7 linked regions of the Homo sapiens genome follow. The protein of the gene in region 1 purifies or fractionates together with the protein of each later gene. This does not show direct contact. Each region holds a gene or a part of one and is shown in the gene's direction. Other genes may lie near its edges.

Region 1 (3,500 bases):
AATTCCACTTCTGGTTATAGATGCAAAATAATGGGAAGCAGGGTATTGAAGAGATATTCGTACTTCTATGTTCACAGCAGCATTATTCACTATAGCCAAACATGAAAACCCATGCCCATGGACTGACGAATGGATGAATAATATTCCATTGTGCAATATTGCTAAAATCTCTTCTCTTAGCAATTTTCAAGAAACAAAATGTGGTCTATCCACATTTGGAATATTATTCAGCCTTAAAAAAGGAAGGACATTTTGGCCGGGTGCAGTGGCTCATGCCTGTATTCCCAGCACTTTGGAAGGCCGAGGCACTTTGGAAGGCCAAGGCAGGAGTTCAAGACCAGCCTGGCCAACATGGTGAAACCCAGTCTCTACTGAAAATACAAAAATTAGCCAGGTGTGGTGGCATGCACCTGTAATCCCAGCTACTTGGGAGGCTGAGGCACGAGAATCGCTTGAACTTAGGAGATGGAGGTCCCAATGAGCTGAGATCACACCGTGGCACTCCAGCCTGGGCAGCAGAGTGGGACTCCATCTCAAAAAAAAAAAAAAAGGAAGGAAATTTGGGCAGTCCTACAATGCAGATGAAGCTTGCAGACATTGTGCAAATAAAGCAGTCACAAAAAGACAAATACAGCATGATCCCACTTATATGAGGTGCCTAGAGCAGTCAAATCCATAGAGACAGAAAGTAAAATGGTGGTTCCAGGAACTCGGTGGTGGGGGGAGAGGGAATGGGGAGTTGGTGTTTAATGGTACTGAATTTAAATTTAAATTTTGCAAAATGAAAAGAGTTCTGCAGATGGATGGTAGTGATGATTGTACAACAATGTGAACGTGCTTAATGCCAGAGAACTGTATACTTAAAAATGGTTAAGATTGGGCTGGGTGCAGTGGCTCACGCCTGTAATCCCAGCACTTTGGGAGGCTAAGGCAGGCAGATCACTTGAGGCCAGAAGTTCAAGATCAGCCTGGCCAACATGGTGAAAACCGTCTCTACTAAAAATGCAAAAATTAGCCAGGTGTGGTGGCATGCACCTATAATCTCAGCTAGTCAGGAGGCTGAGGCATAAGAATCACTTGAACCTGGGAGGCAGAGGTTGCAGTAATCAAAGATCGTGCTACTGCACTCCAGCCTGGGTGACAGAGTGAGACTCTGTCTCAGAAAAAAAAAAAAAAGGTTAAGACGGTAAGTTTGATGTTATGTGTATTTAATCATAATTGGAAAAAAAGCTGCAGCCTTCTTCCTCTATCCTCCAATACCATATTCTCCTTTTTCTTTTTTTCATAGCACGTATCATCGCTAATAAACTCTATAATTTGCTTATTTATTGTGTTTAGTGTTTGTCTTCCCTCATGAGAGTTTCACAAGGGTGGGATCTGATGTATCCCAAGTGTGTGGGATATTGCTGTCAGTTTCACCTACTACTGGATTCCAGTGTAGACCAATATAGACAGGCCAAATGATTAGGAACACTTCATGAATGAAAAACCAGAAAAATCTGTCTGTCGGCTGTGTTATTTTCCCTGACAGTGGAACCACTATTAAGTTTTAGCAACTGTGTAGCCCAGTCTACCTGGAAAGACCAGACATAGCTTTGTTTCTTCATGTCTATTTTCTGCTTCCCCATATTCCTTTTTTAAGACAGGCTCTCACTCCAGTTGCCCAGGCTCGAGTGCAGTGGCACAATCATGGCTCACGGCAGCCTCAACCTCCTGGGCTCAGCTGATTCTTTCACCTCAACCTCCCCAGTAGCTGAGACTACAGGCACATGACACCACGCCTGGCTCATTTTTTATATTTTTGGTAGAGACGGGGTTTCGCTATGTTGTCCAGGCTGGTCTCAAACTCCTGGACTCAAACAATCCACCTGCTTTGGCCTCCCAAAGTGCTGGGATTACAGGCTTGAACCACCATACCTGGCCGTATTTCCTTATTTTCTTTGACTAAATCAGGGAGGTTGGGAGAACAGCAGTTTGACTACTGATTACATGAAATTTTTTTAATTATTTTAATATTTTAAAAAATGTTAAATTGACAAATAAAAATTACATATGTATGGTGTAGAACATGTTGTTCTGAAATACGTGTAATTGTGAAATAGCTAAATCAAGCTAATTAACATATGCATCATCTCACATCCTTTTTTGTGGTGAGTACACTTAAAATCTCCTTTCTTAGCAATTTTCAAGTATACAATACTCTAAATTGTTATTAACTATAGTCTCCATGTTGTACGATAGATCTCTTGAACCTATTTCTCCTGTCTAACTGATTTTTTTTTTTTTCTGAGACAGTCTCGCTCTGTTGCTCAGGCTGGAGTGCAGTGGCGTGATCTTGGCTCACTGCAACCTCCACCTCTCAGGCTCAAGCGATTCTCCTGCCTCAGCCTCCTGAGTAGCTGGGATTATAGGCACCCACCACTGCACTCGGCTAATTTTTGTATTTTTAGTAAAGACGGGGTTTTGCCATGTCAGCCAGGCTGGTCTTGAACTCCTGACCTCAGGTGATCTGCCTGCTTCAGCCTCCCAAAGTCCTGGGATTAGAGGCATGAGCCACTGCGCCCAGCCTAACTGAAATTTTTTTTACCTGCAGCAACTCCCTAATTCCTCCAAGCCCCTACCAAGCTCCTGGTAATCACCATTCCACTCTCTGCTTCTATGAGTTTGACTTTTTCAGATTCCACATATAAATGAGATCATGCAGTATTTGTCTTTCTGTGCCTGGCTTATTTCACTTAACACAATGTCCTCCAGGTTCGTTCATGTTGTTGCAAATGAGTGGATTTCCTTCTCTCTTAATGCTGAATAGTATTCCATTGTGTTTATACCACATTTCCTTGATCCATTCATCTCTTGATGGACACTTAGGTCGATTCCATAGGTTGGTAACTATGAATAATGCTACAATGATTATATGACTATTGCTGTTGAAATTGTCCCAGGTAAACTCTTTGAGCCCATGTTAAGCCAGGCAAGTATTTGTGTTTGAGTTCTAGGGGAGAAGCTCTGCATAGAGACACAGGACCAGAGGAGGTGGCAAAGGCACACGTGAGACTTCCTGCTGGCTCCCATCCGCCTGAGACCTAGTGGGGCCAAAGGAGGGGGAGGATCCCTAGACAAGGAAGAGAGATAGGGCATCATTGTCACTCACTTCAGGCAAAAAGTAGGGAGTTATTGTAATAGCCTGGGCATCCCCCAAGGGAACCCACCACAGCCTTTAAAACCTCACACTCAGAGTTGCTCACACCCCTTCATTTCAAAAATGTTTACATTTTATGCCAGCCAGCTTCACTTAAGAAATGTGTGTTTCAATGACTTAAGGGGAATAGTCTGATTGTTGAGTGCCTTATATAAGATAGTGCAGTGGCCCTCGTCTATAATCCCAGCACTTTGGTGGGGGCCAATGTGGGAGGATCGCTTGAGGTCAGGAGTTCAAGACCATCCTGGACAACATGGTGAAACCCTGTCTTTACTAAAAATACAAAAATTAGCCAGGTATG
Region 2 (3,500 bases), on another chromosome or scaffold:
TGAAGCTGCCTCTGTGCACATTACACCCATGAACTTAGACCAGTTGCCTTTATGTATGATCGTATTTATACTGAGAAGTTACTGTGTTTTTTGACTTTCTTTTCTATTTGCTACATATTAGTTCGGTCTAAACGTTTGGTCTTCTGGTCTCCATAGTTCTACATTGGTTAAATGCAACTCACTTCTGGGAGTAGTGGTGACATTCAACTAGTAGGCTTTTTAATAAACTACAGAAGTTCATTACTCTCATGTAAGGAAGGAAAACTAATGTAACTTTCGTTAAGTATGAAAAGCGTTGGATATCCTTATAGTTCTTTAGAGTTAAGGGTGAGATGGGTTTAGAAAGTGGCCAGGCACAAGTTATTTTAAAATAAAAAATCTTTGGCTGTTTGTTCCAATATATTAATAGTTTTCCCTTTTTTACAGCAACGCAGTGTGCATATTTTATCTGGTTCTCCGAGCTCTGGACACACTGGAAGATGACATGACCATCAGTGTGGAAAAGAAGGTCCCGCTGTTACACAACTTTCACTCTTTCCTTTACCAACCAGACTGGCGGTTCATGGAGAGCAAGGAGAAGGATCGCCAGGTGCTGGAGGACTTCCCAACGGTGAGTGGGGTTACGCATCTTGTCTACGGACTGTTGTGTTCATAATTGCTAACGTGGTTGTCCGGTAGCCTCCATACATGTGGAGAAAGGTTAAATAAGCATTCTGAGGGCAGCATAATGTGAGGGTTAAAAACTCCGGTAGCCAAGACTCTGAAGCCAGGCTGCCTGGGTTGGAATCTCAAATCTCCCACTTACTAAACTGTTGGTTACTTACAAAGACTCTCTGTGCCTCAGTTTCTTCATCTGTAAAATAGGGGTAATAATAACACCTACCTCATGGTATTCTGAGGATTCAAAGAATTAACGTAGGTAATGCTCTTAGAATGTTAGCTACTGCTGTTATTATCAGTATTGGAAGTCCAGTGTTTCTTCCTGTGGGAAGACGCAGTCAAATTTTAGTGTTGTGAAAGATTCTCAGGCTAGCTCACAAAAGCCTGCCGACTGTATGATGCAGCCTACCTGTAACACTGCTGGCCTCTTGACTACCCGGAGCCTGGTAGCATGGGACTGCTGCTCACGATGGGCAGCAGCCTGGCATGGGGGCGGTGTCTGTTGGCAGCTAGGGCGAGCCTCTGCCACTTCACCTGTGATCCTGGGCAAGTTCCTTATCTGCTTTGTGTCTCCGTCTCCTCGTTTGTAAAGTTAGAGCTGAGAGGATTAATTTCGCACATATAAAGTACTTAGTGCCTGGTACAGGGTAAGTATTCTGTAAGTATTAGCTATTTGGTCTATTTTGTTGGAGTAAAGTGGGTTATAGTTAAAATCCTAAGATTTTTAAAGTCCCTCAAGTTCATGTGGACATCTGCCTAGGTCCTACTATCCTAGAATTCGCATGTCTTATCACACAAATAACTGATTCTTCCATATCTTATAAATAAAGGTTTGATTTAGCAAAGTCACATGTTGTGTAATAGCTCGAAGAAGCCCTTTTTGTCCACAGTTGCCAGAGCTTTTGGAGAACAGTCCTTATGTTATTGAAACAAACCTAATCTGTAGCTGAGTTGGGAGGGAGCTAAGTGGACAGAGAGTCCTCCACCCAAACAAAAGAATCTTTGATTCTTGGGCATAATGGGAGCAATATTTAAAAAAAAAAAAAAAAAAAAAAAAAGGAATGTTTGGGGAAGACTCTTGCGGTGCAAAGGCTGTTTCAGATTGCTGAGATCAGACCTTAAGTACCAAAGCCCAAATATAGTACAACATAATACAAATGAGAAGAAAATAGCTGAAGAATAATTCGAGTTTATACAGTACAATTCAAGAGAAGAAAGAAAATTTATGACGACTAGCTGGGTGAGAATTAGAACTGTAACCCTGGGAAGGTCCTGGTGATTTGACTCTCACAGGACACCTGATGACCAGAGGATGGGTTTCCTTTGATGGGAAATCTGTGGCGATTCATTGATGGGCCTCTGAATTCTGCTGAAGCAGAGGAAGTAGTAATACCCCATTTATAATGGAAGTGCATTCTCACTTAAAAACAACTAATATTATTCTAGCTGGACCTAGCCTCTAGAAACAGCCAAATTACATTTGACTTGAGTGGATTCATAATAATTAAAAAATTTCTGGGGCATGGGATAAATGTGTTAGGTATTGCTAAGTCAAGGCAGCCCTATCCCCTCAGCAGAAGTGAGGGAATATGAAAGTGTGTGAATGCTAACATAATTTTGGGGAATATCGCCGTCAGATTTCCAGATGATATTCCAACATGTTTGTGAAACTTCAGTGTCTTCCTGTGTTCATACAGTGTTCCAGTGGAAAAATAATGCTTAGTTCTGGAAGGTTTCAGATGTGAACACTGAACTCATCGTTTTCTTTTTTGGGTAGTAGAGTTAGAGATTCCATCCTCTTGAAAGCACAGTTGCCCCGGGAAGAGTAAAAGGGAGCAGAAGGCGTAAGCCAGGCACGGCTGTTTTCACTGTTGTTCACCTTTTGTATCCTTACGAATATGAAGATGTACTAAGTTGTGTGTTTTGCGTGCATATATAATTTTAAGCTACTTGAGTTGTAGGTCCCTCCAGTCTGTGATTCAGTTTGAGATGGGACTGTATGGGAATTAACAGTGCCTTGTCTTCTTAAGGAGTGATTTGTGTATGTGCTGATATAGCTCAGTATGTCTTTGAAACCAGTTGTCTGGGGCTAGGCCTGCAATCAGCTTTTGGCTAAGAGGTCCCAGGATGGAACAAGTAGTGTGAAAGAGGACTGATACCTTGGCCTCACACACAGTACTGCTCTTAGACTGGGGCAAGTGAAACTCCTCACTTCAGAGTGCCCCATTCTAGGCCCCCTCACTCCCAAAGGGGTGAGGGATCACTGGGGCCATGGGAATGTGCTTGTTCAGCTCTCGTGGGCTCTCCTTCTGTACCACGTTCTGGACATCTGGAGTTCCTTGCCCCAAATCCCTGAGCCCACGTCTGCGTCCGCACAGTCTATTTCCTAAGGTCAGTCCATCTCCTCCAGGTGGGAACGTGCCACCATTGACTGTGCCCTTGGGCCTGAGTGATGGCCAAGGGCTGTGTTGGGGAGTGTTGTGGATGGATCCTGGCACCGAGGGCTGGGATATCCTCTCAAATGAATGTGAGGTGCCTCCCAGTGCTGGAGAGAGCGGGATTCAGGAAGCAGTGGAAGGGAAGAGCCTGGGATATGGGGATCAGCTGTCTGTGCCCTGCTGCATTCTGGAATAAAACTCTGAGGGACTAAGAATTCTAAATTCAAACCTGAATCAACCAGGTTGTTACAAAGATAAGTTTGTCAGTGCAGGAGGATACAATATATTTTACTTAAGTTACTAGCTCGATTGATCATTTTTAAATTTTTAGCTACATATAGTATGTGGGCCTCCATTTGTCCTCTTATCCCAGGCCTTGCAGAATTTAGGAATAAGCCTCAA
Region 3 (3,500 bases), on another chromosome or scaffold:
GCGCTTTGCCTTCTGGGGTAGTATGAAGCACAAGCCAATGTGGCCTTCTGGCCGATGTGCACTTGGATAAAAAATATAACAGGCATTCTGCAAACTGTGACTTAAGCAATTTACTTAAACATTTAAATCTTTAATTTACTTAATTTAAATCTGAAATCTTAAGCATTTAAACATTTAACCTTCCTCAACTTTTTTACTGTCCTTGTTTCACTTAACATTACTGCTAAGAGTGCTGGACTCTTTTAAGATGAAAGTGTTGTGGAGAAATGAAAAAGTAATAAAAATATCCTTATAACAACTTGTGACTATTTTGTAAAATAATGACAGCCAGCGTTTCAGTTAAGGTTCGCCCGCTTGCCTGTGTCATAAAGAAAATAAAGTTTTAAAAAGCAAATAAGATGAATGATTTAAATTATTTATTCATGATCAGAGTTTCTGGGCTCTAAAGCAGTTGTGGAGGAGGATCTCATTTCTAATACTCTATTCTGGAATGTTCCTTATGAGCTTTTTTTTTTCTCTTTATGAAGGCCCTGGAGATTTAGTCTATTTGTCCTTCTTTCTGTCGTAGCCTCCCTCATCTCCTTCTGACCTGGACTTCTCTTTTTCAGGACTGACTTTGAATGAGGACTCAGTTTTCAACTTAATTTTTTCACATGGCATTTAAAACAAGTATAAATACAAATATAACATGTTAAGGTATTTAGTGGTGATTCATAACATTAACAATTAATTTTGGGGAAGTATGAATTAATATGGCAGAAGTTTTAAAACAATTTCAAAATTGTGAATGAAATTACTTTTTGTAGCAGCTGAAATATAAGTGGGGGCTGTAGAAACGTACCCTGACTTCATTCTGTCACTTGCACACTTTCCTGATTCCAGGGAGTGGAGCTTATCAGTCACTCTGAGTCATGTGTCTACTATATATATCCTGCAGCCTCTGATAGACCAAGTGATCTAGTTAAGGGATCGCTCACTTGTCTAGACTGCGGTCCGCATCTAAGGTGGCCCTCCTTTACCTAGGAAAAGGCAGCTTAGGTTGTTCCCCTTCTAAGTTGTGAGGTTACTTGAGATTAAGTTAAACTTTATGATACCAATCTGACACAGATACTTATAGAACCACTGGTTTTATTGACAAAGGGTTGTCCCAGTGGGATTTGCATCTGCTCTTTTATTGCTCCTGGCATTAATCTTTTTTACCATCAATCATTCAAACAGTTTTTTTGGGGGGACAGGCAGGGAGGCTGAGATGGGTGGATTGCTTGAGTTTGAGACCAGCCTGGACAACATGGCAAAACCCCATCTCTACAAAAAATACAAAAAATTAGTACACGCCTGTAGTCCCAGCTACTCCAGAAGCTGAAGTGGGAGAATCACCTGAGCTTGAGAAAGTCAAGGCTGTGGTGAGCTGTGTTGATGCCACTGCACTCAGCCTGAGTGACAGAGTGAGACCCTGTCTCAAAAAAACACACACACACTTGGGAGGCTGAGGAAGGAGAATTGCTTGAACCCAGGAGGCACAGGTTGCAATGAGCCGAGATTGCGCCACTGCACTCCAGCCTGGTTTTTTTGAGTGTGTTTTTTTTGAGACAGGGTCTCACTCTGTCACCCAGGCTGAGTGCAATGGCATGAACACAGCTCACTGCAGCCTTGACTTTCTCAAGCTCAGGTGATTCTCCCACTTCAGCTTCTGGAGTAGCTGGGACTACAGGTGTGTACTAATTTTTTGTATTTTTTGTAGAGATGGGGTTTTGCCATGTTGCCCAGGCTGGTCTCAAACTCCTGGGTGCACACACACACACACACAAACACACACACATTCAGTTTTGAGTTATAAAATGTTAGCTAAAAGGGGTCTTAGAGACTAAGCTGCTAGGGTGATAGCCACCTGTAACAGATGTGGAAATCAAGGCCACAAACTGAAGTTAATTGACATAGGTCACAGGTGTGTTGGGACCAATTCAGTCTTAAGTGTAGGGATGTCTGTCCACATTCCGCATTGTTATATTTGACTGTGACTGACTCTTCCATTTTGCATTTAAAAACAAAATGGTGGATAGTGGTAAATGAGATCACTGTAATTAAACACCAAAAGATTTGACCACTGAATGACTGCATTTTTTTCTTTATACTTCATTATAGGTATTCTATAGACTCATCTTAATTTTTTTTTTTTTTTTTTTTTTTTTTTAGCCAGGGTCATACTCTGTCACCCAGGCTGCAGTGCAGTGGTGCAATCATGACTCACTGCAGCCTTGACCTCCCAGGCTCTAGCTATTCTCACTCCACTGCCTCTGTAATCTTTTTTCTTTTCTTTTCTTTTTTTCTTTCTTTCTCTTTCTTTCTCTTTCTTTCTTCTTTCTTTCCTTTCTTTCTTTCTTTTCTTTCTTTTCCTTTCTGTCTGTCTGTCTTTCTTTCTTTCTGTCTTTCTTTCTTGATGGAGTTTCCCTCTTGTTGCCCAGGCTGGAGTGCAGTGGCGCAATCAGCTCACTGCAGCCTCCACCTCCCGGGTTCAAGCGATTCTCCTGCCTCAGCCTCCCAAGTAGCTGGGATTACAGGCATCTGCCACCAATTTTTTGTGTTTTTAATAGAGATGGGGTTTCACCATGTTGGCCAGGCTGGTCTTGAACTCATGACCTTAGGTGATCCATCTGCCTTGGCCTCCCAAAGTGTTGGGATTACAGACATGAGCCACTGTGCCCGGTCAGTCTTTCATTAGTCTTTCTCGTACTGTTTGTTGGTTTTCTCTCTTGCTTTAAAAGCACATATACTCTGCAGTGAAAAAGATATGTAACTTTCTGATCACGCATAGTTTCCTGCCTTCTTTTTTTCTATGAAGGAGAAAAATATTTTCCTTATTGGCATGGAAACGAACTAGTGTTTATGTCTTAAAATGTCTGATTCTTTTTTCCTTCTTATTTGAGGTACTGATAATAGGAAAACCATTTTGAATTACTAAGAATTCCTACATCATACTCTCTGATAAATACAGCCAAAAGCAATCCCATGCATGGTGGGCATGGAGGATGGTCAAGTTATGTGTCTGCCATAACAAAAAGGATTATAAACATTATGGTCCATGTTCTTCATATTCAATTTCCAAAGAACCTATCTTAACCTCTGGAATATTTGCTATTAAACATAAGTTACCACATTAGAAATAAAATATAAAGCAGATGGACCAGAAGATGATTCCTTTCTGTTCTTTACCAATAGGACATCTTAAAGCTTTTTATCCATATATATGGATAAAATTAAAATATATATGGGTATAAATGGATATATAGATATATTTTAATGAACTGCTTTTTTTTCCACACTGTCAGTCTCTGGTAAATAGTTGATATTGGTACAACTGGTTTGAATAATAAAGCCAATGCTGTGAAGACATACTATTACTTAATTTTATGTCATTTGGCTAGTTTGAATTGTAGCAACTGAGTTACTTATGAACCATGCACAGAACACATAGTATGTACCTATGTGTCTTAGGTGTGAGT
Region 4 (3,500 bases), on another chromosome or scaffold:
ATATGTATTCTGTTGTTATTGGCTGAAGTATGCTGTAGATGTCGGTTGGTAGTATTGTTATGGTGTTTTGTATTCTTGATTTTTTTCTGCCTCTTCATCAGTTATGGAGAGGGGTTTTGAAATCTTTGATAATTGTGGATTTGTCTGTTTTTCTTGTAGTTATGTCACTTTTTGCTTCATGTATTTTGAAGTGCTGTGATTAAGTATATGCACATTTAGGCTGTCATGTCTTCTTGATGGACCAACCCTTTTTTTTATACAAGATACCATCTTTATCCTTGGTAATATTCTTTGCTCTGAAACCTACTGCTGTGGTGTTAATGTCTCCCCCAAAATTCACATGTTGGAAACTTAATCTCCGATGCAACAGTATTGGGGCGGGAGGTGGAGGGTGTTTAGGTGATGAGGGCTCTCCCCTCATAACTGTATTAATACTGTTATAAAAGAGCTTGTGGCAGTGTGTTCTCTTTTTTCTACGTAAGAAGACAGCATTTGTCCCCCTTTTGCCATTTCTACCCCCAACCATGTGAGGATGCCACAAGAAGTCCCTCAACAGATGCTGGTGTCTTGATTTTGGACTTCTCAGTTTCCAGAACTGTGAAGAAATACATTTCTGTTTTCTATAAATTACCCAGTCTCAGGTATTTTGTTATAGTACCACACAATGGACTATGATACTTACTTTGTCTAATACTAATACAGACACTTCAGTTTTCTTTTGATTAGTGTCAGGTGGTATATCTTTTCCCATCCTGTTAATATTAACCTACTTGTGTATTTATATTTAAAGTGGATTTTTGGTAGACAGCATCTAATCTTTCATCTAATTTCACAATCTCTTTTGTTAATGGAATGTTTAGAACACTTAATGTGATTATTGATGTGGTTGGGTTTAAATTCGTGAGTTGCTATTTGTTTTCTGTTTATCTTAACTGTTCTGTGATTCCTTTTTTTCTGTTGTCTTTAGGATTAAAGGGGTATTTTTAAATTCCATTTTTTAATTTGATGACTTACTAGCAGTGCTCTTTGTTGTTGTTTTTTTTTTAAGTGGTTGCTTAAGGGTTTATGGTATACATGATAGAATTTCATGTGTAGTATAAGAACCTTAATATATTACCACTTTTTTCTGGGTTCTTGCTATCGTCATTATACATTTTACTTCTATACATGAGTCCTACAATACATTATTATTTTTGCTTTAACTTATATTTTAAAAATATATAAAATGTTTAAAAATTTTTTAAAAATTTGCTGACATATTTACCATTCCCAGTGTTCTTCATTTTGTGTGTGTGTGTGTGTGTGTGTGTGTATGCAGATTTTCATGTGGTACCATTTTTTTCACTCTGAAGAATTTCTTTTAACATTACTTACACTTAAAAATATACTGGTGATGAATTCTTTTCATTTTGTGTGTCTGAAAAAGTCTTTATTTGCTATAGTGTTTGAAGGATATTTTTGTTGGGTATAGAATTCTAAGCTGACATTTTTGTTGTTTCAGTACTTTAAAGATATTGCTTCATTGTCTTCTGGCTTGCATTGTTTCTGATGAGAAGGTTGCCATCATTCTTTGTTCAACTATATGTAGCGTGTCTTTTATTTTTCCTCTTTTGCCTACTTTTAAGAGTTTCACTAGGTTTTTAATTATTTAATTATTAAATTATGTTTCTTGTGCCCTTGTATTATGTTTCTTGTGCCTGGGGTTTGTTGAGCTTCTTGGATCTGTGAGTTTACAGTTTTTATTACATTTAAACATTTTTGGCTATTATTTCTTCACGTTAGTTTTTCTATGCTGCTTCTCCTCTCAGGAACTCAAAATACACTTACATTAGACCACATGAAATTGTTCTACAGTTCAGTGATGTTCTATTCATCATTCTCAGTCTTTTTGTGTGTGTGTGTGTTGTTTTAGATAGTTTTTACTGCTAGGTCTTTAATTCACCAATCCTTCTGCAGTATGTAATCCACTTTTAATATTACCCAGTTTATTTTTTATCTCAGGCGTTGCCTCCCACTCCTCCCCCTGCCCTTCTAGAAGTTTAATATAGGTCTTTAAAAAATTATGTATCATTTCTTTCCTTAACATCCTGTATTAGCCCGTTTTGACGCCCTGAGACTGAGTAACTTACAAAAGAAAGAGGCTTAATTGGACTTACAGTTCACATGGCTGGGGAAGCCTCACAACTGTGGCAGAAGGCAAGGAGAAGCAAGTCACATCTTATGGTGGCAGGCAAAAAATGAGAAAGCTTATGCAGGGGAACGCCTTTTTTTTTTTTTTTTGAGACAGAGTCTTACTCTGTCACCCAGGCTGGAGTGCAGTGGCGCAATCTCGGCTCACTGCAAGCTCCGCCTCTTGGGTTCACGCCATTCTCCTGCCTCAGCCTCCCGAGTAGCTGGGACTACAGGTGCCTGCCACCACGCCTGGCCAATATTTTGTATTTTTAGTAGAGATGGGGTTTCACTGTGTTAGCCAGGCTGGTCTTGATCTCCTGACCTCATGATCCACCCACCTTGGCCTCCCAAAGTGCTGGGATTACAGGTGTGAGCCACTTCGCCTGGCGGGAATGCCTCTTTTTAAAACCATCAGATATTTTGAGACTTATTCACTATCATGGGAACAGCATGGGAAAGACTTGCCCCCATGATTCAGTTACCTCCCACCAGGTCCCTCCCACAACACAGGGGAATTCAAGATGGGATTTGTGTGGGGACACAGCCAATCCATATCATTCCACCCCTGGCCCCTCCCAAATCTCATGTCCTCACATTTCAAAACCAATCATGCCTTCCCACAGTCCCCCAAAGTCTTAACTCATTTCAACATTAACTCAAAAGTCCACAGTCCAAAGTCTCATCTGAGACAAGGCAAGTCCCTTCTGCCTATGAGCCTGTAAAATCAAAAGCAAGTTAGTTACTTCCTAGATACATTGGGTAAATACAGCCATTCCAAGTGGGAGAAATTGGCCAAAACAAAGGTGTTACAGGCCCCATGCAAGTCTGAAATCCAGCGGGGCAGTGAAATCTTAAACCTTCAAAATGATATCCTTTGACTCCATGTCTCACATCCAGGTCACACTGATGCAAGAGTTGGGCTCCCATGGCCTTGGGCAGCTCCACCCCTTTGGCTTTGCATGATATAGCCCCCCACTCCTGGCTACTTTCACAGGCTGGCATTGAGTGTCTGTGGCTTTTCCAGGTGCACGGTGCAAACTGTCAGTGGATCTACCATTCTGAGGTCTAGAGAACAGTGGCCCTCTTCTCACAGCGCCACTAGGTGGTGCCCCAGTAGGGAATCTGTGTGGGGGCTGCAACCCCACATTTCCCTTCCACACTGCCCTAGCAGAGGTTCTCCATGAGGGCCCCGCCCCACAGCAAACTTCTGCTTGGGTATCCAGGTGTTTCCATACATCTTCTGAAATCTAGGCTGAGGTTCTCAAACCTCAGTTCTTGACTTCTGTGCACTCGCAGGCTCAACACCATGTGGAAGCTGCCAAGGCTTG
Region 5 (3,500 bases), on another chromosome or scaffold:
GAATGGTTAAAATTACCCTTGATGATCCTTCATATCACTTATAAATGTCAGTACAGTATACATGATTTTGTGTATACTAGCCTGTATAATATATGTGATATCTACAGTATGTAATAATACTTTGTAGGCAGTGAGCACAGTTAAGACATAGGCAAAGCCCACATGGTTTTGGGCACAAACATGCAACATAAGTTGATGATAGGAGCGAGGGCAGGGAGTGGCAGGAGATGGGGCAGAAAATTAGATTGAGACTAGATTGTGGAGGGTATTGGGTGTGACACCGAGTACTTGGGCTTTAGTCGGAAGGCATAAAAGAGTCATAGTTCAGTGTATTGATCCAACTGGGAAGTAACATTTATTGAGCATCTTCCATATTGCATTTAAATTTCACCACAACTCAGAATTATTTTACAGAAGAGGAAATCTCTGAGGGACAATATGTACATTTAAGGAAATAGTGGGTGAATAAATATAACTGTCCATGTTATATATTTTAAAATATATAAAAAACACTGTCCATGTAGTATATTTTTTCTTGTTCTGTTTTAAAAAACTAGTTGAAATTGCCTAAGTTAAATGTGAAAATGATGTGACTCTAAAATATATATATATAATTTTTAAAATTTAATCTGAGGTTTTAGAGATAGCCATTTATTAAATACCTTTGTTAAATGAGTGTTTCCACCCATAAAAGATGTAGGTGTTGTTTGAGAATTTCATTGTATTTTGTGTTTTCTCTACAATGCATTCTAGTTATTCTTTTACTTCAAATTCTAATGGCTATGGTAGATTCCTTCATGAGTATTTGTTTAGCATTAGAGGCATACTTCAGAAATGTTGTGGGAGTGGTTCCAGACTACCACAATAAAGTGAATATCACAAAGCTGTCAGATGAATTTTTTGGTTTTCCAGTGCATACAGAAGTTATGTTTACACTCTACTGTAGTCTGCTAAGTGCGCAATAGCATTACCATCAGCAGTAAGGCTGTTCTGCTTTCTTATCATTCATCCGTTCACAGAAATGGGCTTTTAATTTTCTTCAGGAACTTTTCCTTTGCATTCACAGCTTGGCTATTTGGCACAAGAGGTCTAGCTTTTGGCCTGTCTTAGCTTTAGCCATGCTTTTTTCACTAAGCTTAATCATTTCTAGTTTTCATCTAAAGTAACAGACATGGGAGGCCTCCTTTCACCTGAGCACTTAGAGGCCATTACAGGGTTATTAATTGGCCTAATTTCAGTATTGTGTCTCAAAGAATAGGTAGGTCTGAGGAGAGGGAAAGAGACCAATCAGGAATGGCCTTCATGAACTGCTTCATCTTATATTTGTGCAGTTTGTGGTGCCCCAAAACAGTTACAATAGTAACACCAAAGAGATCACCGTAACAGAACAGATCACAGATCACCATAATAGATTAATAATGAAAACATTTGAAATAGTGGAAGAATTGGCAAAGTGTGACGCAGAGACATGAAGTGAGCACATGCTGTTGGAAAGTGGCACTGATAGTCTTGCTGTATGCGGTGTTGCAACAAACCTTCAATTTGTAAAAAATGAAATATCTATGGAGTACAATAAAATGAGGTAAGCCTGTGTATTGCTTTTTCCTTGTGTTTCTCAAAGAAAACTATTTTGTCTTGCAGGACCTTATTTAATGAACTGAGGATTGTTGTTGAACACATAATAATGAAACCTGCTTGCCCACTGTTTGTGAGAAGACTTTGTCTCCAGAGCATTGCCTTTATAAGCAGATTGGCACCAACAGTTCCATAGTTTAACATCTAGTTAAGCTACAAATATAGTATAAGCATTATTAGCAGCTGGTACTTCTGCTAGGGGTTGTAAATTCCAGGTGTTACACTGACCTCAATCCAATTTACATAATTTACATAAATGCATCTCGGTGGAAAAATAATCATTTTCTTGGCATGTTAAATCAAGCTTAAAAAGTTTTGAGAAAATTTTACTGCGCTGTGTTGCTAATGGTTAAAGAAGTCTGTATCTAGTGATAAATATACCAGTTTTTTTAAAAAGATGCTGTTGTGCCTATATCATGAAGTACATTAATTTCTCATGTAAAAAAAATAGCTCTAAAATTTGTTTCAACCTAATTGGTAACCTGAGTTTATATCTGGCATGAATTCATTATGGTGATACACATATGTGAATTCAGTACATTTTGAGACAGTATTCTACCATTCAGTAATTTTGGTTAATGATTTTAACACTTCTCAGTGTATTTAATTTCAAATTGTTTTTTTAATTGGTTTTATGCTGCTTTGTTAGGACAGATGTGTTTTGAATGTACCATTATAAGAAGAATTCTATGTATCTTAAACTATGATCTTCTAAAATTTTATTTCCGTAAGTACTTCTGTGGCCTTGAGTATTTTTTAAAAGGCTCAACTGTAAGCCTCTTAGCCAGTTGGATAAATATTTGGGGTCACCTAGCCATTGAAAGCAGAAAGCAGTAGTGACACAGCTTTCCCTTCAAAGAGCCATTGAGAAACATTTCTCAAACAGGAAATCCTTCTTTTACTAATGTGGACATATAGATTATTCGTATTATAGTTTGTAGAACTACCTAGTTCAGAATCTTGACTGCCAGTTTTCTTGGTTTCTTAGGCTTGAATTTTCATAGACAATTGCAACAGTTTAGATGCCTTTTGAAAGGAATGTAATGAAGATTCAGCATCTGACTATATGTGTGTCTATCCTGAAATAATAATGGAGAGTATACTGTAGATTACATGTTTACCCATCAAATCTGACTTAAAAGGTTAAATGGAAGGTTTTATAGGTAAGGTAATTGATTGGGAATGGGGTAGGGGGAGGAGTTGTGGGGGAATAATGTGCATTTCAGTCTCAACGCATAGATAAATTTAGGGGAATTGGATGTATTATTCAACTTTGATTTGGGTTGTAAAATGTGTTAAATCCTGTTCATTGAACTCCCATCAACTCTTATAAAATTCATGCTGATCTTCATTACCGTTGCATGATTGGAAATGTTTAAAACATTGTACAGTTTTAGTATAGAGAAATGTAATGGTTTTTGTGACCAGTTTCTGTCTGCATGTAATTTGGATTTCTCAAATACATTCATTAGTAATTTATCAGTAACATTAGTTTTATTTTTGTTCATCTCCTTATCTATAAAAAGGGGATATTCTTAGGATAAATACATGAAAAATTATACTTGATAGCTTAACTATAATCAGCTATTTTTGTATTTTTGTAATATTTGTCCACTAAGCTGGAGAAGCAGCCTCATACAGTTGATTTTGTGTATGTGGCTAGTCTTATTGTCACTATGTAAGTAATCCAATGGTTTTAGAAACTAAACTTTCTAGAGCAATAAAATGACTATAATGTTAAGTAAACATAATGTTGATTTCTAATTATGTTTTAAAAAATGAAGTCTTGAATTATATCAAGAAATTTTGGCAGCTGAAGTCATGTTTATTTTGAAGCTGTTAGTTTTTTCCTATAATTTAAAAAG
Region 6 (3,500 bases), on another chromosome or scaffold:
TGGCCCACAGACCCTGAGGTGTTTCCTTGGTGGCTCTTCACAGAATGTTTGCTGCCCCTAGTATAGAGGGTAGAGCCTCCTGGGTAGGGCTGTCCTGTGGCTCACTGTTTTTTGTAGGCCAGGTACCCCCTTGACACCTGACATCTGCCTCAGTCCCCTCACAGTTCAGCCTTCAAACTTGAGTCCTCTGTGTCATATGCCTAGACCCCCCACTTCTGAGGAGAAAGCCTCAGCTTTCTCCTTTCACGATCCCTTCTCTCTCGGTGAATGGCCAGTGGGTTGGGCTCTCTTGCCCCCACCCATGTTGGCATTGCTTGCCTTTTAGGTACCCATGGGACGGCTCCTGTTTCTCCCATTCTGAGAGCATCTGCTTATAATTCTAGGGCCTGTGTTTGGAAGCAAAGATAACTTCCACGGCTTAGCCATCTTCCTGGACACCTACCCCAATGATGAGACCACTGAGGTAGGCCCCTGCTCTATCCTGCTGAGCAGGAAAGGAAGGACTGGGCAGTCGGCTAGAGGAGGGGGCCCTGGGACTTCCATGGTCCCAGCACAAGAGGAGCCTCCAGGGATTGGGGTGGTGGGTGCCCCTGCTCGCCCCACAGGCTGGGCTGCTTGTGGAGTAACCGATGTCTTGGTCCCAGCGCGTGTTCCCGTACATCTCGGTGATGGTGAACAATGGCTCCCTGTCCTACGACCACAGCAAGGATGGGCGCTGGACCGAGCTGGCGGGCTGCACGGCTGACTTCCGCAACCGCGATCACGACACCTTCCTGGCTGTGCGCTACTCCCGGGGCCGTCTGACGGTGAGCAGGCTAGGCGGTGGGGGTGGCAGCTGGTGGCCCTGTGCTGGTCCCACAGAGGCTCAGGAGGGCAGGCTGCTGTCCTGCGAGGTGCTTAGCGTGCTGGGCCCTGCAGGTGATGACCGACCTGGAGGACAAGAACGAGTGGAAGAACTGCATTGACATCACGGGAGTGCGCCTGCCCACCGGCTACTACTTCGGGGCCTCCGCCGGCACCGGCGACCTGTCTGGTGAGTGGGCCGGGCCAGGCGTTGGTTCCCAGCCCAGCTCACCCTGAGGGACTGGGAGCTTTCCATGCAGTTGATTGCCTGCCTTCATGTGGTTTCTGAGCTCACCTGGCTGTGTTCCTCCTCCTCCTTTCTTCTGTAAATGGCCTGTCCGGGCCTCAGTTCCTGTGGTTTCTGGGCTCACCTGGCTGTGTTCCTCCTCCTCCTTTCTTCTGTAAATGGCCTGTCCGGGCCTCAGTTCCTGTGGTTTCTGAGCTCACCTGGCTGTGTTCCTCCTCCTCCTTTCTTCTGTAAATGGCCTGTCCGGGCCTCAGGCCTTGAACGGTCCCTTGGCAACCTTCCCCATCAACAGGAGGCAGCGGGTCAGTTAGATTTGGGCAATGTAGATTCCCAGATTTATCTCCAGCCCAGACCGCTCTGGACCTGCTCAGCCCTTGTGCCCACAGCTGAGGCCACATCTTGCCCATCGGGATGTCAGTGGCACCTGTGCCCCTCTATTTGCTTGCTGTCTTTCCGGACCCTTCTTTCTCTCACATGGCACCTCTGGTCCATCAACAGTCCCTGTGGCTTTATTTTCACAGCACGTCTCACCACTTCCCTCCCCTCCCTGACTACCTGGCGGCTTCAGGCCACCAGTGTCTCTCACAGGAGTCTCCCAAGTGGTCCCCTCCTTCACCAGCCCCCAACAGTCTCTCGTGAGCACAGCAGCCGTGTAATCGCCTTCAGTAATCGCCTTCAGCCCGTGTGAGGCCTCCTGCTGCTCTGCGCAGAGCTCTGCAGGGGGCGCCAGGGCCTCTGTGCCAGCCCTGCCACCTCTGGCTCCCTGCTCACTGCTCCCCCTGCCTACTGTGGCTTCCAGCTGCTGCCTGGATGCGCCTGTGCCCTCCTGCCCCGGCTGTTTCACCCTTGTCTCCTAGGGCCTTGCTCAGATGTTACCTCCTCAGTGCGGCCTTCCCTGATGCCCTCGTGGAATGTCGTGCCCCCTCCTGTGTCCCCAGCCCACTCCCCAGCATCTTTGCTGGCTTTATTTTTCTTCATAATATTTACCATCTTTGAGTCTACCGAGTAATTAATTTTATTGTCTCTGGCCCTCCTGCTCAATTGTAAGCTCTATAAATGGCTGTTTGGCCCAGGGCAGGTGCTCAGCGAGCACTGGGGTGCCTCTAACCTGCTCAGGCCTCACTGGTCACCAGGCCGTGGTGGCCCTTGGCTGTGGTTCTCGGTTTCTCTTTGGGGCCCTGAGCAGGTGCCAGGCCCAGGGCCAGCTCCTGACCAGAACTGGCACGTGACACGGGGGACCTGACATGGGCGGTTTATCCTCAGGATGACCCATTCCAGGGCCTGTAGTCTGCCCACTGCCCAGGAGCCTCCTCTCTCAGCATGGAAGTGCTTGGGTCCGCTCAGACCCCAGAACATCCATTGTTTGGGGGTTTTTCAGTCACATACCCAGCAGAGGAGAGAGGTCTGGTAAGCACCCTTCCTGCCAACCAGCTTTCATCATTTCCAGCTCGCGCCTGGCTGGTTTCCCTCCTGCCCCGGGTTGCCTGGAACTTCATCACACTGTTTCAGCCCTTGTCTTTGGAGGGTTCTTGATAGGAGCAGAGCAGCACCAGTGCTGTGGCCGGTGGCAGCTCTCACAGCTGTTGGGAGAGCCCAGCACAGAGTGGAGGAGGCACCATGAGGGGAGCCGTGTCTGACCACTGGTCAGGGGTCATCAGTGCCAGGCACCTTACGGGTGATGTCACCTGATGTATTTTTAGGCAGATGGCCATCTCGTTCCCTTTTTACTCAACCATTGGGAGTTTGAAAACTGAAAGGATTTTTCCTAAGATACGAGCAGGAAGCAGCAGAGCCCAGATGGGAACTGGGGCCTGACTCCAGGGCCGGTCCTTGTCCTGCAGGGCCGCTCGCCGTCTCCAAGGGCTGTGCATGCTCGGCTCTCACACTGTGTGCCTGGCCGAGCTCTTGCTCATTAGGTCCCCCCTTGGCTCCAGAGATTCCTGCTCCCTTCAACAAGGCCTTTCCTCAGATTCCAGTCCCAGGCTGACCAGGACCCACGTGTCGGCTTTGAGCCTCAGCCTCCTCATCTCTACAATTGGGTGATCCATCAGCGTCAAGCCAGGGCTCTTCCCTGTGCATGCCATTGGACAGAGCCTTTCCCCAGTCTCCTCAGGCACAGCTGCTGACCTGCGTTAGGCTCAGGCCCTTAGCTGGTTGCCGAGTTGTTCCCCTGCAGCCTGTATGTGGGTCTCTGTGGCAAGAATGTCTGGTGGCTCCTGCCCTTGGGACCTCAGCCTTCTCAGCCAGTCACACAGCGACTGTTGGTCTTTCCCGGGTCTGTTTTTGAGCACTTATTCTGCAGGCAGGCCATCTTCTGTGTGGTGTAGACCCTTCTCATGTACTTGCCATGGCAACCACACAGATGGAGATCATCACTCCTCTACATGTGCGGAACATGAGCCTCAAAGAG
Region 7 (3,500 bases), on another chromosome or scaffold:
CAAACACCTGCCAGTAACAGTAAGATAAGAAAGACATAAGGCTATCTCACTAAGTTTGTATAAATTCTAAAATTCAGAATAAGTTTTGTATGAGGTATTAAAAATTTAGTTTATAATTGTAACATCTTTATTTTATAGGCTATTTAAAAATAGGTGTATATTTAACTACAGATGTAATACATGGCTTGAAAAGGAAGCGTAGTGTAACATTTCAGACTGAGTGTGGACTCTGACACCAAGTTACCTGGCTTAAAGTTCCAGTTTTGTTATTTACTAGCTGTGTAGCCTTAAGTAAGTTCCTTAACCCCTTGCTGCCTCAGTATCGTTATATGTAAAATTAAGGTAATGAAAATACCTACATTATGAGATTGCTGTGACTGGTGAACAGGTCGGCATGTAAAATATATGAAACAGTGCCTGAAATATTTTAAAAGCTATATACATTTTAGGTGTTACTATAGTTGAAATAATCCAGAAAATTAGAATTCCCCGTATTATAAGAGAATAGTAAATATTGTCAGATTTTTATATACATAGCATAATTTTTTAAAAATTTATTTAAAAATCTACAAACAGTAAAGTTCACTTTTTTAAAAAATATACTTTCTATGGATTTTCACAAATGTGTATAGTCTTGTGACTGTCAGAGATGTGTGAACTGGAACAAATCCATCTTAAATAGGAGCTGGGTAAAATGAGGCTGAAACCTACTGGGCTACATTTTCAGACAGTTAAGGCATTCTGAGTCACAGGATGAGATAGGAGGTCACCACAAAATTCGGGTCATAAAGACCTTGCTGATAAAACAGGTTGCAGTTAAGGAGCTGGCCAAAACCCACCAAAACCAAGATGGCGACAAGAGTGACCTTTGGTGGTCCTCACTGCTACACTTCCACCAGCACCATGACAGTTTACAAATGCCAGGGCAATGTCAAGAAGTTACCCTATAAGGTCTAAAAAGGGAATGCATGAATAATCCATCCCTTGTTTAGCATATCATCAAGAAATAACCATAAAAATGGGCAACCAGCAGCCCTCAGGGCTGCTCTGTCTGTGGAGTAGCCATTCTTTTATTCCTTTACTTTCTTAATAAACTTGGTTTCAGGTTGCACCGTGGACTCACCCTGAATTCTTTCTTGGGCGAGATCCAAGAACTCTCTTTTGGGGTCTGGATCAGGACAGCTTTGCTGTAATGTGACCTAACTAGGAAATAGAACAGTTTCCTCAACCCCCTAAACTACTTCTTCTTTTTTTTTTTTTTTTTTTTTTTTTTTTTTTTTTGAGAGGGAGTCTCACTCTGTCACCAGGCTGGAGTGCAGTGGCACCATCTTGGCTCACTGCAACCTCTGACTCCAGGTTCAAGCGATTCTTCTACCTCACCCTCCCTAGTAACTGGGATTACAGGCACGCGCCACCATGCCCAGCTAATTTTTGTATTTTTAGTAGAGATGGGGTTTCCTCATGTTGGCCAGGATGGTCTCGATCTCCTGACCTCGTGATCTGCTCCCCTTGGCCTCCCAAAATGCTGGGATTACAGGCATGAGCCACCGCTGGACCAACCCCCTAAACTTATATTGTGTTGTTTCTTTGTAGTCAAACCATCTCCCTACTTGTAATCTTTGCCAACCGCTGATCTGTTTCCTTATCCTTTGGGTTTGCCTTGTCTGGAATGTCATATAAATGAAATAATCCAGTAAAAGATTTTAAAATCATATCTTTTGAGTCTGGCCTCTTTCATTCAGCATAATACATTTGAGATTAACTCAACATGTTGCATGGATCAGTAGTTTGTCGTTATTCTGAGTAGTATGCCATTGTGTGGATGTACTACGGTTTTGTTTATCCATTCTCCCTGACTGACATTTGGCTGGTTTCCAGTTTTTGGTAATTATGAATAATGCTGCTGTGAATAATTACGTATAGGTTTTTGTGTGAATATACATTTTCATTTGTCTTGGATATTCAGTAGAATTTCTGGGTTTTATTGTAAGTGTATATTTAGGATTTTAAGAAACTACCAAACTTTTCCAAAGTGGCCATCCCATTTTGCATTCCCACCAGCAATGTTTGCAAGTTCTGGTTGCTGCATATCCTTGTCAGCTCCTGGTATTGTCAGTGGTTTTATTGTTTTAAAATTTTTTTTTTTAGCTATTCCAAATAAGTGTATAGCTAGCATAATTTGGAACCAAGTTTGTCCATCAAACTCTTGAGACTTGGAAGAAGATAAAGAATAGGGCTGGATTAAATGCAGAGTCACATAGGAGCTCATAAGGAAGAGATGGAGAGACCATCAGATTTGTGAGAGCTTTGCAATTTCTGTCATATTCACTGTTGTAATCCCCAGATGACTAACATAGTGCCTGGCACACGGTAATTGGGATATCTTTGTATGTTTATTGAATCATTGAAAATCAACAAATGATTGAAAGGGAAGGAATAGAAGTAGGATAGAAGTAATTTTAGATTAGATTTGGTCTGAGTAATCCCAGTATATTCATGTGACACACACCTTTCTACCTGCTTAAGTCTGAGTTTAGAGACATATTTCAGGGCTAATTTCTGGCCCCTTCGCAGGAGAAAGAGAGCATGATATAGCAGAAGAAGCAGTAAGCAGAAAAGATTTGATGCTACTAATTTGTTGTGTGGATTTAGGAAAGTCTTCTTAACTCTCCTGAGCCTCAGCTTCATCACTGCATAATGAAAATATTTTATTATATGATAGCTAATTTATTTTTTTTCTGTTAATCACATCAAATCAGAAATTGGTGAGGAAGAAGCATGCCAGAGCCTTGATAAGGGAAGCATTATATATGGATACAACGTGAAGTGTAGCTCTGCAGGGAGTTGAGGGGTGAGTGTTAAACAGAGCTAGCTAATCACTAATTGGCAGAAAAAAAAACAGTAGATAGAAAACGGTAGTTACAGGGTTTCAAACAGAGCAGCAGCGTTGCAGGACTGGGGGGCGGGGTGGGTGTATAAAAGGAAGTAGGCATTAACAATACCAAATTAAGATGTTCGTAGGTTTTTTTTTTTTTTCTGGGGAGAAGCTAGCTATAGTGTCATCAACGCAAAGAGGAGGACCTGAGCCTCAGAGAAAACAAAGTTGAGGATAGGTGGTAACACAGACCACTCTAGGCCCCATGTGTGAGCTCTGGGAATTGTTCAGCATGCTGCTTTCCAGTGGCCTTTTTCTCTACCATTATTACTCCGTTACCCCACTTCTTTAAAGTTTAGGTCTAGAGTTTAGCAAAAAGCCAGCTCTTAGTTGATATTTATTCAGTTTGTACTTTGAAGGATTTTGTACACGTACTGTCAAGTATCAGTAGAAATTTAAAAATAGTCGGCTGGGCACAGTGGCTTACGCCTGTAATCCCAGCATTTTGGGAGGCTGAGGCGAGCAGATCATGAGGTCAAGAGAACCAGACCACCCTGGCCAACATGGTGAAACCGTGTCTTTACTAAAAATACAAAAATCAGATGAGTGTGGTGGCGCGTGTCTG

The links.
Region 2: the proteins of SVOP (region 1) and FDFT1 purify together in Homo sapiens (affinity purification with mass spectrometry; one large-scale study listed by BioGRID and IntAct). This does not show direct contact.
Region 3: the proteins of SVOP (region 1) and REEP5 purify together in Homo sapiens (affinity purification with mass spectrometry; one large-scale study listed by BioGRID and IntAct). This does not show direct contact.
Region 4: the proteins of SVOP (region 1) and HS2ST1 purify together in Homo sapiens (affinity purification with mass spectrometry; one large-scale study listed by BioGRID and IntAct). This does not show direct contact.
Region 5: the proteins of SVOP (region 1) and TMEM33 purify together in Homo sapiens (affinity purification with mass spectrometry; one large-scale study listed by BioGRID and IntAct). This does not show direct contact.
Region 6: the proteins of SVOP (region 1) and LMAN2 purify together in Homo sapiens (affinity purification with mass spectrometry; one large-scale study listed by BioGRID and IntAct). This does not show direct contact.
Region 7: the proteins of SVOP (region 1) and LCLAT1 purify together in Homo sapiens (affinity purification with mass spectrometry; one large-scale study listed by BioGRID and IntAct). This does not show direct contact.

What each region holds. Positions count from the first base shown.
Region 1 is NC_000012.12:109,011,069-109,014,568, reverse strand, and holds part of SVOP (synaptic vesicle 2-related protein), read left to right. Parts: intron 1-3,500.
Region 2 is NC_000008.11:11,809,241-11,812,740, forward strand, and holds part of FDFT1 (squalene synthase), read left to right. Parts: exon of another isoform or gene 1-250; intron 251-426; coding exon 427-610; intron 611-3,500. UniProt on the Homo sapiens protein: Catalyzes the condensation of 2 farnesyl pyrophosphate (FPP) moieties to form squalene. Proceeds in two distinct steps.
Region 3 is NC_000005.10:112,912,228-112,915,727, reverse strand, and holds part of REEP5 (receptor expression-enhancing protein 5), read left to right. Parts: intron 1-3,500. UniProt on the Homo sapiens protein: Plays an essential role in heart function and development by regulating the organization and function of the sarcoplasmic reticulum in cardiomyocytes.
Region 4 is NC_000001.11:86,921,135-86,924,634, forward strand, and holds part of HS2ST1 (heparan sulfate 2-O-sulfotransferase 1), read left to right. Parts: intron 1-3,500. UniProt on the Homo sapiens protein: Catalyzes the transfer of a sulfo group from 3'-phospho-5'-adenylyl sulfate (PAPS) to the 2-OH position of iduronic acid (IdoA) or glucuronic acid (GlcA) within the heparan sulfate (HS) chain and participates in HS biosynthesis.
Region 5 is NC_000004.12:41,952,429-41,955,928, forward strand, and holds part of TMEM33 (transmembrane protein 33), read left to right. Parts: intron 1-1,641; coding exon 1,642-1,771; 3' UTR 1,772-3,500. UniProt on the Homo sapiens protein: Acts as a regulator of the tubular endoplasmic reticulum (ER) network by modulating intracellular calcium homeostasis. Mechanistically, stimulates PKD2 calcium-dependent activity. Suppresses the RTN3/4-induced formation of the ER tubules.
Region 6 is NC_000005.10:177,334,669-177,338,168, reverse strand, and holds part of LMAN2 (vesicular integral-membrane protein VIP36 precursor), read left to right. Parts: intron 1-383; coding exon 384-463; intron 464-644; coding exon 645-806; intron 807-918; coding exon 919-1,033; intron 1,034-3,500. UniProt on the Homo sapiens protein: Plays a role as an intracellular lectin in the early secretory pathway. Interacts with N-acetyl-D-galactosamine and high-mannose type glycans and may also bind to O-linked glycans.
Region 7 is NC_000002.12:30,520,246-30,523,745, forward strand, and holds part of LCLAT1 (lysocardiolipin acyltransferase 1), read left to right. Parts: intron 1-3,500. UniProt on the Homo sapiens protein: Exhibits acyl-CoA:lysocardiolipin acyltransferase (ALCAT) activity; catalyzes the reacylation of lyso-cardiolipin to cardiolipin (CL), a key step in CL remodeling.